2 separate regions of the Homo sapiens genome follow, and region 1 is linked to region 2. A link means that fine-mapping ties the variant in region 2 to the plasma level of a protein whose gene starts in the linked region. Region 2 holds a variant in brackets. A gene starts in the other region. All regions are shown on their reverse strands.

Region 1 (8,332 bases), not on the chromosome of region 2:
GTTTGAGGAGGGTATAATGTCAAAAATATAACATGCACTACTCTGGGATATAAAACTAAAGACGTGTGTTTTAATTTATGGGGATTAATAGACATAAAATTATCTACAATTAGCTTATGCAAATATTTATAATAGGCAAAACATAACTGAAGTTATACAGTGTTGTGTCAATTTCTTGGGATTCAATTCAATACTTCAAAATAATTTTGATGAAAGAAATCCATTGTAAAACCAGTTTTCTTAAAAAGCAAATTCATGTTTCCCTTTAAAAATTGCTTTTATAGCCACTGTATTAAAACACTATATTTTGTGTCATTCAATTTAAATAAAATAATTAACTAAAACACTGTTTAAGTGTCTGGAAAAAACATAAACTAATAATATTCAGTTTATTAGAACACTTCTAACAATACACATTTGAATCTCCAAAAATCATAAAACAGGATTTCTTACTTGAGTGGGTAGGGAGATGGAATATAGTTCATAATAGTTTTTAATCTTAAATCTTAAGCATTAGGAGTTTTATATACTTCATTACTTTTTAAAATGTACCAGCCTCTAATGTGGAGTTATTGATCACAAATGCTCAGAAAATAGACCTCTGCAGTGATTCTACCGCTTTGAGCTTCCGACCAGTCTCTTTCCTGCTATAAAGTGTTAAGAAGTTCATGTAACATGTTAGCACAGCCTTACAACACGGTTCTTAACATCTTGTGAGAAACATATTACTCTCTTACTTTATGCTTGGATTGTCAGAAAGAAGAAAGAGAGATAAAATCAACTCCTGGAGTCAGAATTTCAAGAAAACAAACTACATGAATGTATGAGTTTATTATTTAAAGTAAGAGAAATAAATTTCCAACGACTTGGTAAAAATTTAAAAACCCGTATTTTAAAAGAAAGTTCAAAGACAATAGGTAATCAAGATACATGAGAAAGAATGGATTCGGCAAATTACAATATTGTAAATATCTGAGCCTCATAAAATTCTGGATTAGTTTTTGACTGATGAAGGAGACACTAAACTCTGCTACAACTTTGTTTTAGCCAATCAAACTCTCTACAGTCAAATCATCTTCACAGTATTACAGCCATCTAGAGAAGTTTTCATCATTTTTATTTTAATCTTCACAAATTATGCCTTTATTTTGTCTAGAAGTAAGACAAACTCCAAAATGCTTTGGCCAGCCTATGCGGGCCCTTTGCCCTTTACTGGCACCCTCTGGTCCATATTGCTAAGTCAGCTGTGACAGACAATCACACTCCTACCTCTACCCTGAAAGTGGTCAAGATTTTCTAAACTGTGAAGTAAAAGAGACATTTAAAGAAATACATATCAGCCAAACCTGGTACATTTCTAACAGATAGCGCTACTTAATTGGACACATAAGATTGAAGTAAATTTTTACATGCTACTAATTTTAATGATTCATCTTACATAAACATATTCTATGTATAGATTCATGATTTGATTTCAGGTTGGCTCCCTGACTAAGAATTGTTTCAGACCACCTAATACTTGAAGTACTAACTGCTCACCTTGAGAAACATTCAGGTATTTCAGCTATTCATTTAAAAATTCCACAACTGTAGCTTTTTGGATGTATTTCCAAAAGCACCTTGGTGTGCATGTGCCTCACAACTTATAGACAAAGTCCGGCATTTAGTTAATCTATGGGATTATATTTTTATATAACTTTTAAGAATCTAACTTTCTGTTCAGTTGTCTATGGAATCAGAAAGAAATTAAAATTAGCAGTTTTTCTCCTCCTTTCTCAATTTTCAGAAGTTTTAAATAATTTAAAGGATACACCAATTCCTAAGCAAAAACACTGGCACTTGTAATAATCATTTCACTGACTTTCTATTTTCAGATAGGCTTTAATATCATTCCCTCACACTCCAGCTATTTGTCAAATTCTATTCTTTATATTGAATTTCCCTTTTTATAACTTTAACTCTGATTTTTTTTGCCTTTTTCCCTTTAATGGACTTAGATGATCTTTTTATGTAATATCTTTAATTTGTTATCATTAGTTTTATATGACATATTCTTACTCATACCTCTTTTCGATTAGAGTCAGAGTAAACTTATGCCTGTTAAGTTTAAGACTCAGCATACTAGTCCCCACTTAACTTAGAATAATTTGAGCATGAAATAGGAGAATATGCAAGCAACCATGAGAATTGCTCAAAATTGACTACAGGCATTTTCAAAAACAGTTAATGACCTAATCATTATTTTTTAAAATACTGAGAGTCACAATATTAATCATAATGAACTCCTTTAAGCTCCCTGTAATGGTCATAAGTACTTCTGTAATTCTGTTGCAATTCAACAGTAATCGATGATATCTGCATTAATTTTTAAATTTGACTATTTGTCTATAATTTTAAATGCTAGTATTCTAATGAACATCTACTTCTTTCATCCTTATTTCCACAGTCGTAATTGAGAATCAAAGTAGAAGTATTGACCCTCTAAATGATTTTCTCTTTTAAATTAAGAAACAAATGAATGAAATGTAGGTAAGGCATTGAACATACAACAGTTTAAAAGTTTTTTGCTTCTCACCTGCATTTAAATTACCACATGAAATTGTATTTTTCTTGGGAGAACAGTTCTAAGATTTAAAAGTAATATAATTCTAAAATATTTAGTGGATTCTGGTTCTTTCGCAAATAAATATAGTTGAAACAACTTATTGTTCAGGTCATCAGAGTAATTCTCAGGTTTGTGTATGTGCAAATTGATATTCTCTTCCGTATATCTCCCTACAAAACATGGTAAGGATGTCTGAACATAATTTTTTAATCTATCACAATCCTATACAACCTTTAGAAAAAAGCTCAGCATAATCCAAGATACAGTTTTTCTCAGTCTCACGAACTTTGTAGAACTCCACTTATAGAGCATCCCTACTGAATTTTAACAAGTTATTGCAATGCCAGATGCCCAATTATTTAGTCTCGGAAACTCATTGCTCAAACATAAGGCATACATTCAGTACCTGAGAACGGCATCCTATTTTCCAAACATTTAGTTTCTTTTGTAGAAACATCCTCACTTTATCCTGGCATTTATTGCCTTACAATTTGCAATTTGCGTGTAGGAATTGCTTACTCTTATTTTGGGTGGCATTAGGAGATATACAAATAGGTTATATTTACTCTTGTTTCAACTTTTTGCCATAAAATCCCAGCAGGAAATAAAGTCGTGTTTTGTTTCCTTTATTTAAAAAAGCTTCATCTTACAGTTTTTACATTCTGGCAACATGGCAAGAAAGGATGGCTTTGCAGAACAGAGTGTGTCAAAAATCCTAAGTGGCTGGGAGATGAAGTGCACAATCACAGAACGCAGTCACTGGCAAAGGAATGTCAGCCACTTACCAATAAGATGCCAGACTCCACTGTCCTTCCTCTGTGACTCTCAATTCCTGTCTCCCATCCTCCTGCCCATCAGCACAGTTCAGAGAGAGCGGTTCCTCGGGTCCTTTGCAGCCTGTGGCAGAGGCGAATTGCGGAGTTCTTAATCATTCAGAGGGAATCCTCCAGCTTGCCCTGCCTCTCGCAGCAGACGGGACCCAGGTAACGCATCCTCTCCGCCCCGAGCTTTAATGGCACTTTGGCTGCCGCCTTCTCGCAGTTCCGCTCCCCCACGCCGTAGTTGGTTATATTGGGAAGTAGGTGCGGCGCCTCCTGCGGCTGGTGTGTTTGGGGCTCGCGTGTTTTCCTCCAATGCGTCCGCGCGCCCTGCGCCCCGCGCCTCTGACTGGCTGTGTCCTCCCGGGGCGGCCCCTCGCCCCTCCCCGGCCGCCCGCGCTGTCACCGGCGCCCGCGTCCAGCGCCTCACTGCCTCTTGCTGCAAAGGTTCATTGAGCATGTCCCTGGGCTTAACGAACTGTGCGCCTCCCGGAGGGTGCTCTGTGTTTCTCCACTCGTCTCACTAGTCAACCGGCATTTTCCTTCCCTGCTAAGTACAGAGGACCTGCCCCCCTTCCCCGAGCGTTTCTGCTCTGCAACCCCTCCGTATTTAACATTCATAGATTACAAAGCAAACGTGCTGGCTGGAGTCGGCACGGGAGATCCAGGCGAGAGTCCCTTCCTCCGCTCCTGTCTTCACTCTGATTCCTGTAGTCCCCGGCTCACACCTCTGACAGCAGCAGCACAGACTGACGCGTTCACTTAGGTCGGTTTGAGAGTGGACTTTTTCACTTTGCAGAATTTTCTTAAGTCCTGAATGGGAAGCACTTCTCTTTTGTTTCTGCACTTACGCGTTTCATCTAAGGACTATCAGGCTCTGCCTGTTTATATTTCTCTTTGATTTGGGGTGTTGACTCAGTTCTAAAAAAAAGCGAAGGAATGGTCTCAGCAACCTTTTTTTCGGAATTTTTATATTACAATGGCTGTAATTGGAAAAATAACACAGGTAGTAAATCCACAGTGTGGCAGCTTTAGTGCCATTGTTCTGCCAGTCCTCCTCTCTACTTTTTTTTTTTTTTTCCTCTCAGTCTTTGAGTCGTTTTCCAATTCCCACGATTGGGCTGATGGTAATTGGGTATTTGTTAAATAAATTATATAACATTTCCTTTGCAATATATTTCCATAGAGAATGTGGTTTGCACCTGTATTTAATGGAAAGGAAATCCCACGTACTGCTTTCTATCTCTGTGTCTGTATAAGAAACTGCATGGGAGTCTAGGGTCGCACCCCGTGTCCGCTGGTGTCCGTTTTTCATGTGTGTTTGAGAGCAGCCTGACCCTGGACTGACGCTGATTCTTCTGCTCACTGAATCCCCCGATGGGGTCTGACTGGCTCTAATTGGCAAGGAGAGTACAGTGCCAGGCAGCCTGTAGCTGGAAGCCGTCTACCACTAGCCCTGTGTTCTTTCTCTTGCAGTTTTTCTGGTAATTAAAATTAGTCTTTTCCTGTTTCTTGGCTGCTTCTCATTCATCCAATGATGTACAAACACCCAGTCTCTGCTTTTAATCGCTATCCTCAGGATCTAGGCTGATTGCTTGTTCTGTAGCAAAGACAAATTTGTGTGCATTTAATACTTCTCCACTCTTCCATACTTTTTATATTCGTGTTCCTGCTTTCCAGTAACTAGGTTATCTTCTTTATGTGTTAACTGAGGGATCGTTGTGGAGATTCCCCTTCTGTGGCTTTTTCTCTGCCCCACTGGCTCTTCTCCTCTGTCAGGCTGTCGGTTCACAGAGAGAACTACCAGGACTTTTATAACCACATTAAATACATCACAAAATAAATTCAAAGTGTAGGAGCTCTAACGCATTCTTTTTATTGTTCGATGAGGTTTTTGCCTTTAAAAGTGTATAATTGAGCACATGCAGCCTGAAAGAGGGATCGGGAGTGTAGAAAGCTTTCTGAAAGTTCTCTTCCCTTCTTAGAACACCATTCTATATTACCCATGATCCGATAATTTGGGCATTTTGAGTCATTATGTCACATAATTTCTTTCAACTAGCTTTGCCCTAGAAAGGATGTAAGTTGGCTTATAAAAATCTATTCAGTTTAAAAAAATGAATAAAAAATGTAGGTCAGTGAGATCAAGACAAACGGTAAAGTGATAGGAGGAGAGATAAGATGAAGCCAGAAATGAGGTTTATAGAGAAAACTGCATTGATGTTTTTGTTACAAATGGTGCTAGGTCTGCCATTAACTTTGTTAGCAGCCAATGTAAAGAAGGAAATGCTATCGGTCACATGATTCATGGTGCCCTCCTACCATTAACATGAACAAGAAAATTTACCTTTTACATGATGTAAATGGACTAAATATTTCTCCTTTCTTAAGCAAGAACTAAATAAAAGCTTTTAATGTTTCTACTTTTTATAAAGAGAGCAATATTATCACAAGACTATGGTGTGAATATATTTTTGAAACAAGTAGATAATGTAATAGCACTTTTCCTTGCGAAGTTATCTGATGCTTTAGAGGGAGAGAAAGGAAACGTTGAATCTGTTTAATTAAAAATAGTAAGGTCTATTTCTGTCAGTTCAAATTTAAAATGTTGACTTCAATCATTATTTGGGGGTGACTAGGTTACCTGGCTACACTTCATTCAGGACCCAGAAAGAGTGACTATATTTATTCTCATGTCTTTTATGACTTTTAATGTTCTAATTTGTAATAATATACAATTATATATTCCCTATTAATATCTATATATGTAACAGACAAACTGTTAGTCTATCTGACTCATCTTTCTTTAGAATTTTGCTGTTATGGAGTTAACTTATGTACTGTATATTTTTACAATTTTCTGCTTGGAGAGTAAGGGCTCTATAGATCAGGTACACTTCTGTATCCTTTTATATCCACAGTGTTCAGGTTTAAGCAGGTCAATGTCTGGAATTAGAGAAACAACAGTGCTTAAAATAAGAAACAAACAAACAAAACTCCTTGTTAGAGTTCCACTAAAAAGAAACAAACTACCTTGTGTTTTCCAAGTAAACATCAAATCTTTTCACATACCATGACCAAGATTTTCTACTATTGACATGTGAGAATGGGATTTTAAGTTATAGTTGTTTTGATGTAAGATTTGTCTTTAAAAGATATAAAAGTATGTATGCCCCATTATTAAATTCCAATGCTGTTTTCTTAATAAAATGGCATTATTAAAAGATCACTGGTTTTCTCTGTTTGATGCTAATGACATTTTTGAATTAACCAGCTCATCCTGTACCCTGGTAAAATATCATTTGTACATTAAGTTAATTAAAACATTGTTTGTAAGTGGGGTAAGTGGTTCAGTAGGTCACTTTCTCTATGCTATGGTTATGACACCTCAACCTAGCTGTCATGTTGCTGATCTGATCTTGTTGTCTAGCCATCTTTGTGTAAATGTCTTAATCTCTTTATCTCATCGTCCCCAATGGGCAAGCAAGCAGATGCAGCACATCTGTAGCAGTTGAGGTGCCTCTGAGCTTTTGTCTTATTTGTGTAACAGATTTTTATTGAAATCATGCCCTCCTTTCTCTTTCCCTTCATTTGACTCAGATAAGTTCTAGGTTCTAGTTAACAGATCATAACTATTATTATGTTCCATCAAATCATAGCATAACTGTAGGGAAGCAGACCAATGGTGAATTCATGTCTAGATCAGTCATCTTTCTTGGATCATCTGCCTTGCCTACTGGAGCTTCTTTTAGCATTTGCATTTTCTGTTTTGATGTTTTAATCCTCTATGTTAATGTGTTACCAATAATGGTGAATGGGTAAGTACTAAGATAAAAATTAAAGGAATCAAAATCTTGCATTTTCAATATATGCCAGTATTCCCTATAAGTGCAAAGTAACACATGAAGAAGCAAAAGTAAACTTTTACTTGAACTGGACAAAATATGATTTTAATTATATTTTGAGTTTCTTAGAAGATGTGTCTCAGTACTCATATCACAGCTGTTTTGTGAAAGCAGAAGTAAACATATCTTAATCAGACTTGGAAAATATACCAACTTAATTAATTTAACAGCTGCTTCAGTAAACAACGCTAAAGAACATAGTCTACTTTGTGGATGTCTTGATAACATCGGCAACCAAAACCATTAAGAAGTATGAGAGAGGAGCTCTAATTCAACTGTGGTGGTCAAGCTTTTGGTGGTCACAGTACCAACTCTTACTTACAGAAGCTGCAAATATCTAATCTCCTGTAGGTGGAATTTATGCTCACCCTTTGTGACATTTTGGTCCAACTATTTATGCAAACCATAAACATTTGCAGTTAATTAAGATTTTAGAAAATAGAAGTAAAAGTTGAAATCTTACTAATTTAAAGGTAAAGTTTACTTAGTTTTCATCCAGTAGATTCCTTTAGATATGCATTTCTATTTTTTTTTCTTGGATATATTTTAAGTCTCAGGATCTCTATCAGTTTTAATTCACTTACCTTTACAGATGTCTAATTTTTCTTTTATGTAGCATTCTCTCACCAAGACCTCTGGATATAAAGTTGTTTCCATAAAGAAACAAAACCAAAGATTCATTTGCTCATGACCAGGTAAATACCTCTGTATTGTCACTGTTTACATACCATTCTTCTCAGTATGGGATAAAAATGTCTAATGGTTTCTTAGAATTAGTCTAATTTGTTCTTTATGGTTTTAAAGAATGGCCATATGTGTGTTGCATCTTGATCATTTCCCATCTCTTCCCTGTCTCCCAAGTCTGTCAGGTACATTAACTTGACCTGTCTTTGATATTTGGCCCTCCATCAAAATAATCATCCTTCAAAAATATTGCTATCAAATATGATTCTCACCTTTATATATTAGACATTCCTGGTCTCATCTACAATATTTCCAAAATG
Region 2 (8,301 bases):
CCAACCGCTGTCTTGACACTGGGGGTCATGGCGGGAGCAGCCAGCATCGCAGCCCAAAGGGGGTCTCCTCCAGCTGTGGGGATGGGGAGAAGGGGTGCTAGTGACTAAAGACAGAGTGGGGGGCAGGCTCCTCACAGCAGTGGCCAGAAGTCGGTTTTCTCCCATCCCAGCCTGGCCAGGGAGTTGGGTCAGGGGAGACCTGTACCTGGGACACCATGAGACCCCTCTCTGGCCTGACTGCCTTTGCTCCTGGGCAGAACCGTCCGTGAAGACAGACAGACAGCAGCCTCAGGGGAAACGGGCCCTGTCCTCTGGGCTCAGCTTTTGCTTCCTCCTGACCAGGGGTCTCCCGGGCCTCGTGTCCCTGGGTTATCCTTCAGGGGCCCACAGTCCCAGCCTCAGGACTCCTGCATCTGGGCATCATCCCTGACGCCTTCTGCCATCAACCCCACCCCCGGCCAGCTGATACCTGGAGGAGGGGTTCCCGGGACCCTCCTGGACCTCGTGGCCCTGACTTGAGTCAGGAAGCCCCATTGATGCCATGGGCTCTGCAGGGGCCGGGTGAGGGAGGGTGAGCCCAGAACTCTGGGAGCAGCTCCCTCCTGGGACTGGGGGATGGGTCCCAGTGAGGGCCTGGACAGCCCGCCGGAGGCACTCCCTCCCATCCCTGCCCTCAGCTGCTGCCTGGTCCTGGGGGGAGGGGGCCTGGACCCTCTCAGCACAGCCTGGGCCTCCTTCACCCACAGGTTCCTGGAATTTGAGGCTGAGGAGGAGATGCAGATTCAGAAATCGCAGTGGATGAAGGGGCCCCAGAGCCTGCCTCCTCCAGCCCCGCCGAGGCTTGAACCTCGAGGACCCCCTGCCCCTGAGGTGGTCAAGCAGCCAGGTACAGCTTCCCACATTCCCACAGGAGCCATGGCAAAGGCCAAAGGGGCCAAGGGAGGCCACTGTCCCCACACCCCATGCTTCCCTTCAAGAGGGGGATTTGCTCCCTCCAACAGGACAGCTTCCGGGAGTGTATGTTGGGTATTGACCAGGTGAATACCTACTTCATGGGTGGCCCGTGATCACGAAGCAGGGTATTGACCGGGCCAAGTTTCCTACTTTCTCTCTCCCCTTGCCTGTCCAAAACTCCACATATGCTCTGCCCAGGAAGCAGAGATGAGCGGGGAGAGTACACGGCATATCGGTGGCTCCAAACTTCCTCCCAAGCGATG[C/T]TGTCTCAGATGTGCCCCTCCTGTGGCGTCTCCTCCGGGGCGCTGTGGTTCAGGTGGTCCTGACCCAGCTGGGACCCACTTCACATCCCCAAGCCCTGCCCTCCCCTGTGTGGTGCAGGCAGGAGGAGCGGCCCTCACCACACCCATCCTCCTCCCTCTCTGCCTCAGTGTACCTTCCCAGCAAGGATGGCCCCAAGGCCCCGACTGCCTGCCTGCCACCACCCAGGCCCCAGAGGCCAGCGGAGACCAAGGCCCACCTGCCACCACCCAGGCCCCAGAGGCCAGCGGAGACCAACGCCCACCTGCCACCACCCAGGCCCCAGAGGCCAGCGGAGACCAAGGTCCCTGAGGAGATCCCCCCTGAAGTGGTGCAGGAGTATGTGGACATCATGGAGGAGCTGCTGGGGTCTCACCCTGGGGACACAGGGGAGCCTGAGGGACAACGGGAAAAGGGCAAAGTGGAGCAGCCGCAGGAAGAGGACGGGATAACCTCAGACCCGGGCCTCCTGAGCTACATTGACAAGCTGTGTTCCCAGGAAGACTTTGTCACCAAGGTGGGCTTGCCTGGAGTGCTGTGGTCTGTAGGATTCCAGGGGGTGGCACTTCCAGGTCCTTGGAATTAAGCTCTGTTCCTTAGCTACTCAGTAGTATGTGTATTTCCATGGATTTGAGTGTCTGTGTATGTGACTGTGTGTGTCTGTGTGTTGCTGTGTGTTTGTGTCTGTGATTTGTTACTGTGTCTTTGTGTGTCTGTGTGGGTGTGAGTGTGGAGTGTGTATGTTACCTGTGTCTGTCTTTTCCTGTGTTGTACATGGGTCTGTGTGTCTGTGTGTGGTTTGTGTGTCTCTGTCTGTATGTGTGTATGCTACGAGGTCTGTGGTCTGTGCGTGTAGCTGGTGGTCGCCATGATATGAAACAGCCCCAGGAGGGTGGGAATGGGGCCCTCCCCGCTTTCTGCATCTCCTCCGGGTGTCCTTGGCTCCAGGTTACTCCCTCCCCAGGAAGTTCACACCTTCTTCCTTCTGTTTCCAGGTGGAGGCCGTCATTCACCCCCGATTCCTGGAAGAATTGCTTTCCCCAGATCCACAGATGGATTTCTTGGCCCTAAGCCAGGAGCTGGAGCAGGAGGAAGGACTCACCCTTGCCCAGGTAGAGCAGCGGAGGGAGGGGAACCCAGGTACTCCAGGGGCAGGAGGGACCCGGCACACAAGGCCCACCCGATTGTCTAAGCCCACCCTGCTGGGGATGTTCAGCTTCTTGGGGAGCCACTCCGGGGTGGGAAGATGCAGGTTCAGAGGGAGTAGGATGGAGAGGAGCCAGGGAGGGGAGTCAGGATGCAAGCTGCAGTGAGGCCCAACGGGATGCCCGGCAGAGCCACACCCTCTCTCTTTGACATGAAGCCCAGCTGCCTCAGGCTTCCCTGCCTCCCACCCAAGTGCCCTGGTCTCCACCATTCTGGGCCCTGCTCACACCTGGGGCAGCGCCAGTAAGTGCCCCCTTTCCTTCCGCAGCTAGTGGAGAAGCGCCTCCTGTCCTTGAAGGAGAAAGGGTGCGGGAGGGCAGCCCCTCGACATGGCACGGCCAGGTTGGACTCAAGTCCTTCTGAGTTTGCAGCTGGCCAAGAAGCAGCGAGAGAGGTCCCTGACCCCCAACAAAGGGTCAGCGTGGAAACCTCCCCACCCCAGACAGCTGCCCAGGACCCTCAGGGACAGGGCAGAGTGCGCACTGGCATGGCCAGGTCCGAAGACCCTGCTGTGCTTTTGGGATGTCAGGATTCCCCCAGGCTGAAGGCTGTCCGGCCAACCTCTCCTCCCCAGGACCACAGACCCACCTGCCCCGGCCTGGGGACCAAGGACGCCTTGGGTCTCCCTGGAGAGTCTCCTGTCAAGGAGTCACATGGGCTGGCTAAGGGGTCAAGTGAGGAGACGGAACTCCCTGGCATGGTCTATGTCGTGGGTTCCCACCACAGGCTGAGGCCCTGGAGGCTGTCCCAGAGCCCTGTCCCTTCCTCGGGCCTTCTCAGCCCAGGAGGGAGAGGACCCCAGGGAGCTCTTCAGTCTCCATCTGCTCAGAAAAGAGGCCTCAGCCCATCACCTTCTCCTGCCAGCAAGTCCAAGAAGCGACCTCTCTTTGGAAGCCCATCCCCTGCTGAAAAGACACCGCACCCAGGGCCTGGGCTCAGGGTCTCTGGGGAGCAATCCCTGGCTTGGGGGCTGGGTGGCCCCTCACAGTCTCAAAAGAGAAAGGGTGACCCCTTGGCCTCCAGGAGGAAGAAGAAGCGGCATTGTAGCCAGTAGGGGCCGCCATGGGGCAGACTCTCTGATGCCAGTCCCCAAAAGTGGGGCTCTGAAGTCTCGGACCCTCATGGCACCCGGTGCCCCAAAGCAAAGGCTGCTTCTCCTCCAGTGCTGATCTTGCTGGGCCTTAGCTTTGGAGGGTAGGGGAAGGAGGGGAGGGAGAAGGTGGCTGAACGGGGAGGGCAGGAAGGGAGGGCCTGGGGGGTGGGAAGCAGTGCCTTGGGGGCCTTGTGTGTAAATGTGAATAAATGTAGTTGTTTTGGAAAATGCTCTCAGGGCTGCTGCCTCTGCCCTTGGCGTTGTGCTGCTTTGTGGAGGGTGTCTGTGAGGCCTCAGGGCTGAGGAACTGGGAGAGGCCAGGCACTGGGAACCCACAGGGGCTGGCCCCACTCTTTTCTCCTGTTATAGGGGGCCCCTTCAGATGCTCTGGGGACTGACAGATGCTGAGGAAGCCCTGATCCCTCCCACCATCCACTCACAAGGCCCCGCCTGCTTTAGGGAGGCTTCTCGGGGCCTCCCATCATTATCAGTATCCCTGGAAAATCCTGGGATGGAGAGAGCTGGCTGGCTTTTTTTCTGCTCGGTGGGAGCTGAGGAGAAGGCAGCTGCCTGCAACATGGACATGGGGAGAGGCGGCTGCTCCTGCTTAACCCTCATCAGGAAGAGCACGGGCACTGGGCTGAGGGGAGACGTTGAGGTGACCGTCCACATGGGTGTGTTTGGGATATGATGAGGGGCGCAGAGCAGGGGCCTGTTTCTGGGCAGGAGAGAGTCTTGTCCAACTGGCTGAAGCAGATGCTCCTTGCTGTGGCCACATGGAATGGCCTCAGGGGCCCTCAGGGTCTTGCATGGAGCTCCCCCAACAGCTATGATTCCCTTCCCATATGATGACTGAACTCGTGTGGAATTGATGTAGACACAGATTTACATTGGCATCTAAAACAGTTCCCTCCCAACACACCATCACCAACGGGAACAAGCATGACCAGCCTGCCAGGCGCAAGGTGGGTGTGTCTGCTGGTCCCAGGGCCAGGAGAAGCTGGGGCCCAGGCCGAGAGGGGCCGAGGGTCAGTCGCCCTTCTGCCAGGCACAGACCCCAAGGGCAGAGCAGGGGCTGCCTGGGATGTGGCACTGGCTGTCTGGGAAGTGCCCTGAGAGTCGGGGGCCAGGTGTTCACTGAAGGGAGACTTCTGGAGTCTACGAGTGAGATGAGGACTGCATCAGGAGAGGGACTGAGGCTGGGGAGGATACTCTGCTTTTTCCCAGGTTGTCCTGTCCTCCCCATCTCTGCTGAACTCCCCTCACCCCATGTGGCCGACCTCTGCCCCCCTTACCCCTAACCCACCTCTCAGAATCTCAGATCCCAGCATGGACAGGACCCAGCACCTGCCCTGGTTCCCTCCTGGCCAACACCTTCTTCTCCACAGTCTGAGTTCTGATTCCTCCCCAGGGCCCTTGTTGGCTCAGGACCGCTGTGACTGCCAGAGCACTGGTCCCAGCACTGCCCGCATGCAGAGCTGTGGTCATGGTGCTGGGAGTTGGCCCAGCAGCAGAAGCTGATGGGGCAAAGCTCTCTGGTATATGGCGGCCTGGTCCCTCTGCCAAGTGACAAAGGGAGCCATGTTTGGGTTCTCTCTGGCCCCATCTGCCCACAGAACACAGCAGTCAGCCAGACAGATGCCTCTCTGCCCCATCCCTTCCGCTCCATGTGGGCAGTGTCGGAGGCCTGCCACCCGCTTTCGCCTTTGGGAAGGAGAGTTTATCTTGGCAGGGCTTCCCCAGCTGAGGGCACAACAGGCCCTTGGGGAAAATGTGGGGAGTGAAGAGTCACTGGTGGGTGATGTGGGCAGCTCCCGTGACTCCTCTACATTCAGGGCCATCCTCAGGAGACAAGGTAACACCTCCCCTTTGCAGGGTTTAGGAATGTTAAGTGAGCCGTGTTTGAAGGGAATGTGGTCTGTACTCTGGCGTGTGTGGGTGCTCAGCCAACTTCCTCACCTAAGTGTGAAAGTGATACCTTGGTTTAGTGACACCTCGGGGCTTCTGCTGGTTTACCCCACTAGCTGTTTCCTGCCCCACTGTCCCTGTCCTTGTTTTGGCTGAGCCATTTCCAAGAGGCAGAACCTATGCTTCCTTCACCTCTGTGTCCCGCCTGAGCCCTACAATCTGCCCCTAAATGGGCACAGTGGGGCTGACTGGGGGACTCTGATGGACTTAACATGTGTCCCCCCCGCCCAGTTCCTGTGGTGAAGCCCTAACTCCTAACGTGATGGTATTTGGAGATGGGGCCTTTGGGAGTTACTCAGGGTTAGAAGAGAACATGAGGGTGGGGCCCTAATGATGGGATTAGGGCCATGGTAAGAAGCAGAGATCCCAGCACTCTCTCTCTCTCCCTGACATGAGGACACAGTGAGAAGGCAGCCGTCTGCAAGCCAGGAAGAGAGCCCTCACCAGAACCTCACCTTGCTGTGACCCTAACGTCAGACTTCCAGCCTCCAGACTGACAAATACATTTTGTTTCTTAATACGCACCGCCTCCCCCACCCACCAAGTCTAGGACACTTTGTCCTAGCAGCCCTATGTGACTAGGACAAGGTCCATCATCTCAGGAACTTCCTTCCTGACTGGTATCTGGAAACTGTATCAGAGCCATGGGAAAGAATGAAGAAAGGCTCGGCTCTTTACGACTGTCAGCACACCTCCACCCCAAGTGCAGTGTATCACACGTGAACCAGTACTGCTGTGGGACACAGTGCAAGGGAATCTGTAAACACCCATGACATCGTCATATCCACACTTGGGGAAGCCAAGCAGCTTGCTCACAGCAGGTGCTGGGGGTATGCTGAGGCTCTCGGTGGGTTTGGTCTCCCTGCTCACGCAGCCAGGTCACTCTCTGGGAGCCAGTGCAGTTGGGGCGGCCCCGGGCAGGTTTGCCTCCAGAAACCACTCCCTTCACCACTGGACAACAGATCCCTGAAGAAGCCATGGCCTCCTGAGAAACTCCATCTGACAATGTGAGCAAGGCCGGCCCCCGTTAGTAAACATGCAGTGCTTTCTGACAGCTACCAGGATGGACTTGCTCCAGGTGGCTGCCCTTTTGTAGCTGCACTTTGATTCTAACTTCAGCATCCCATGATGTCCTTCAGGTCTTGGTGCCCTGGGCAATGTTAGTGAGAGTCACCTGGTTTGGGGGATCTGGGCCAGGCTGCCCCCTCCTGGCCAATCGGCTGATACCCGGCCAGGGCTGCCAGAGTCATTGTCACTGAGTCCCTGACCATTACTGGGTGCAGACTCTCAACAGTGGCCCCCACCCTGGCACATCCCCTGTGAGGGAGCTGATACGCTGGGTTTTACTGAATTCTGAGTTATGATGTCATTGAGCATGCTTTGTCTGCACACTTGTGCCCTTTGAGCTCATTTTAGGCAAATGTATCCGGACTAAGGTTGTATTTACCGATGGTTCATTTTCCGTCCTCATCTCAGTCCTCGGAAGGATGAATTCCACCTCTCAGGCCATGGTCCTTCCTCAGAGTTTCCTTTGTCTTAGTTCATTCCAAAGATCATGTTGTAGGGACGTTTATCACGTATACGGTATTTGCATAAACTGTATGAGCGATTAAAAGATATTCTCTGACATTAAACACAAACAACATAGAAATCTCACGGGTGACGATAGGATCACAAGATTCCTAATAAATGTTAAGTGGATGGTTACTCAAGGTAAATCCCTTCATCCCCTTGCCCTTCATTAGAATAGACAGAAACTGACTGTATACAGGCTTTACTCCTTTATAATGTGCCAAAATAAAACCCCAAAGCACAAATCGCACAAACCAAGTCATGCCACTGGGACCATCGTGTGTCATCTGAGCTAGCTGGGCCATGCCAACTCCTACTCCATCTTCTGCTTTTCCCTGCATTCCTCAGGAATGAGAGCTTCTGTGTGAGCATTCATAAGACATCCTGCATTCACGTCCACTGATGTGTTTTCTTTTTTAAAAAACTATGCACATTTTATTAGGAATGTTTCAACCACATAGAAAACATATAATAGAAACCAATATAGACACCACATAGACGTGGGCCATGTTAACATTCTACCGTTTGCTCATTTTTTAAATAAAACCTTTATGAAGACATTCACATAGCATGCTTTCACTCATTGAAATTGTACAATTTGGGTTTTTCATAGAATTTGCCACCATCACCACATTAAATATATTTATAGAATTTGCAACCATCACTGCATTAAGTCTACTTATAGAATTTGTAAGCATCATCACTATAAACTTTAGAACATTTTTATCACCTCAAAAAGAAAACCCCTAGGCTGGGTGCAGTGGCTCACGCCTGTAATCCCAACACTTTGGGAGGCCGAGGTGAGTGAATCACTTGAGGTGAAGAGTTCAATACCAGCCTGGCCAACATGGTGAAACCCCGCCTCTACTAAAAATACAAAAATCAGCTGGGCATGGTGGCACACATGTGATCCCAGCTACATGAGAGGCTGAAGCAGGAGAATCGCTTGAACCGGAGAGGCGGAGGTTGCAGTGAGCCGAGATAGTGCCGCTGCACTCCAGCCTGGGTGACAGAGTGAGACTCCATCTCAAAAAATGAAGAAGAAAAAAAAACCCTTGTCCTTTAGCTATCACCCCCTGCCCCCCACCGATCTACATCCTAGGCCTACATAACCACGAACTGATTCTATATAGCTTTACATGCTCTGGACTTGCATATGAATGGAATCATACAATATATGTCTTTCACACCTGTCTTATTTTACTTTA

Alleles and levels. Alleles are on the strand shown, and positions count from the first base shown. The strength of an association depends on the size of the effect and on how common the allele is.
With allele T in place of C in region 2, the plasma level of the protein whose gene starts at base 3,712 in region 1 is higher (moderate association).

Evidence for each region. A credible set is the group of variants that fine-mapping cannot tell apart. PIP is the posterior inclusion probability: the model's chance that the variant is causal. Protein levels are from antibody-based Olink assays in UK Biobank. Linkage for the fine-mapping came from a reference panel and not from the study's own genotypes, which makes the PIPs less certain.
Region 1: CNTN5 starts here. The variant in region 2 is the best candidate, but not a certain one, in a credible set for the plasma level of the CNTN5 protein (UK Biobank, PIP 0.54).

Annotation. Positions count from the first base shown.
Region 1 is chr11:99,016,329-99,024,660 of GRCh38, reverse strand. It overlaps CNTN5 (contactin 5), which reads right to left and starts at 3,712. Exons shown (of 25, transcript NM_014361.4): 1 at 3,391-3,712. RefSeq lists a silencer at 1,135-1,335.
Region 2 is chr9:94,313,678-94,321,978 of GRCh38, reverse strand. NUTM2F (NUT family member 2F) reads left to right here. Exons shown (of 7, transcript NM_017561.2): 4 at 747-886; 5 at 1,386-1,771; 6 at 2,250-2,366; 7 at 2,729-3,781. The coding sequence ends at 3,514. It overlaps LOC105376154 (a long non-coding RNA gene), which reads right to left. Exons shown (of 3, transcript XR_930132.4): 2 at 6,969-7,118. Among named protein-coding and RNA genes, the nearest start is that of NUTM2F, 11 kb to the left of the region's middle. RefSeq lists an enhancer at 2,815-3,494. The variant C/T (reference allele first, on the strand shown) is at 1,218.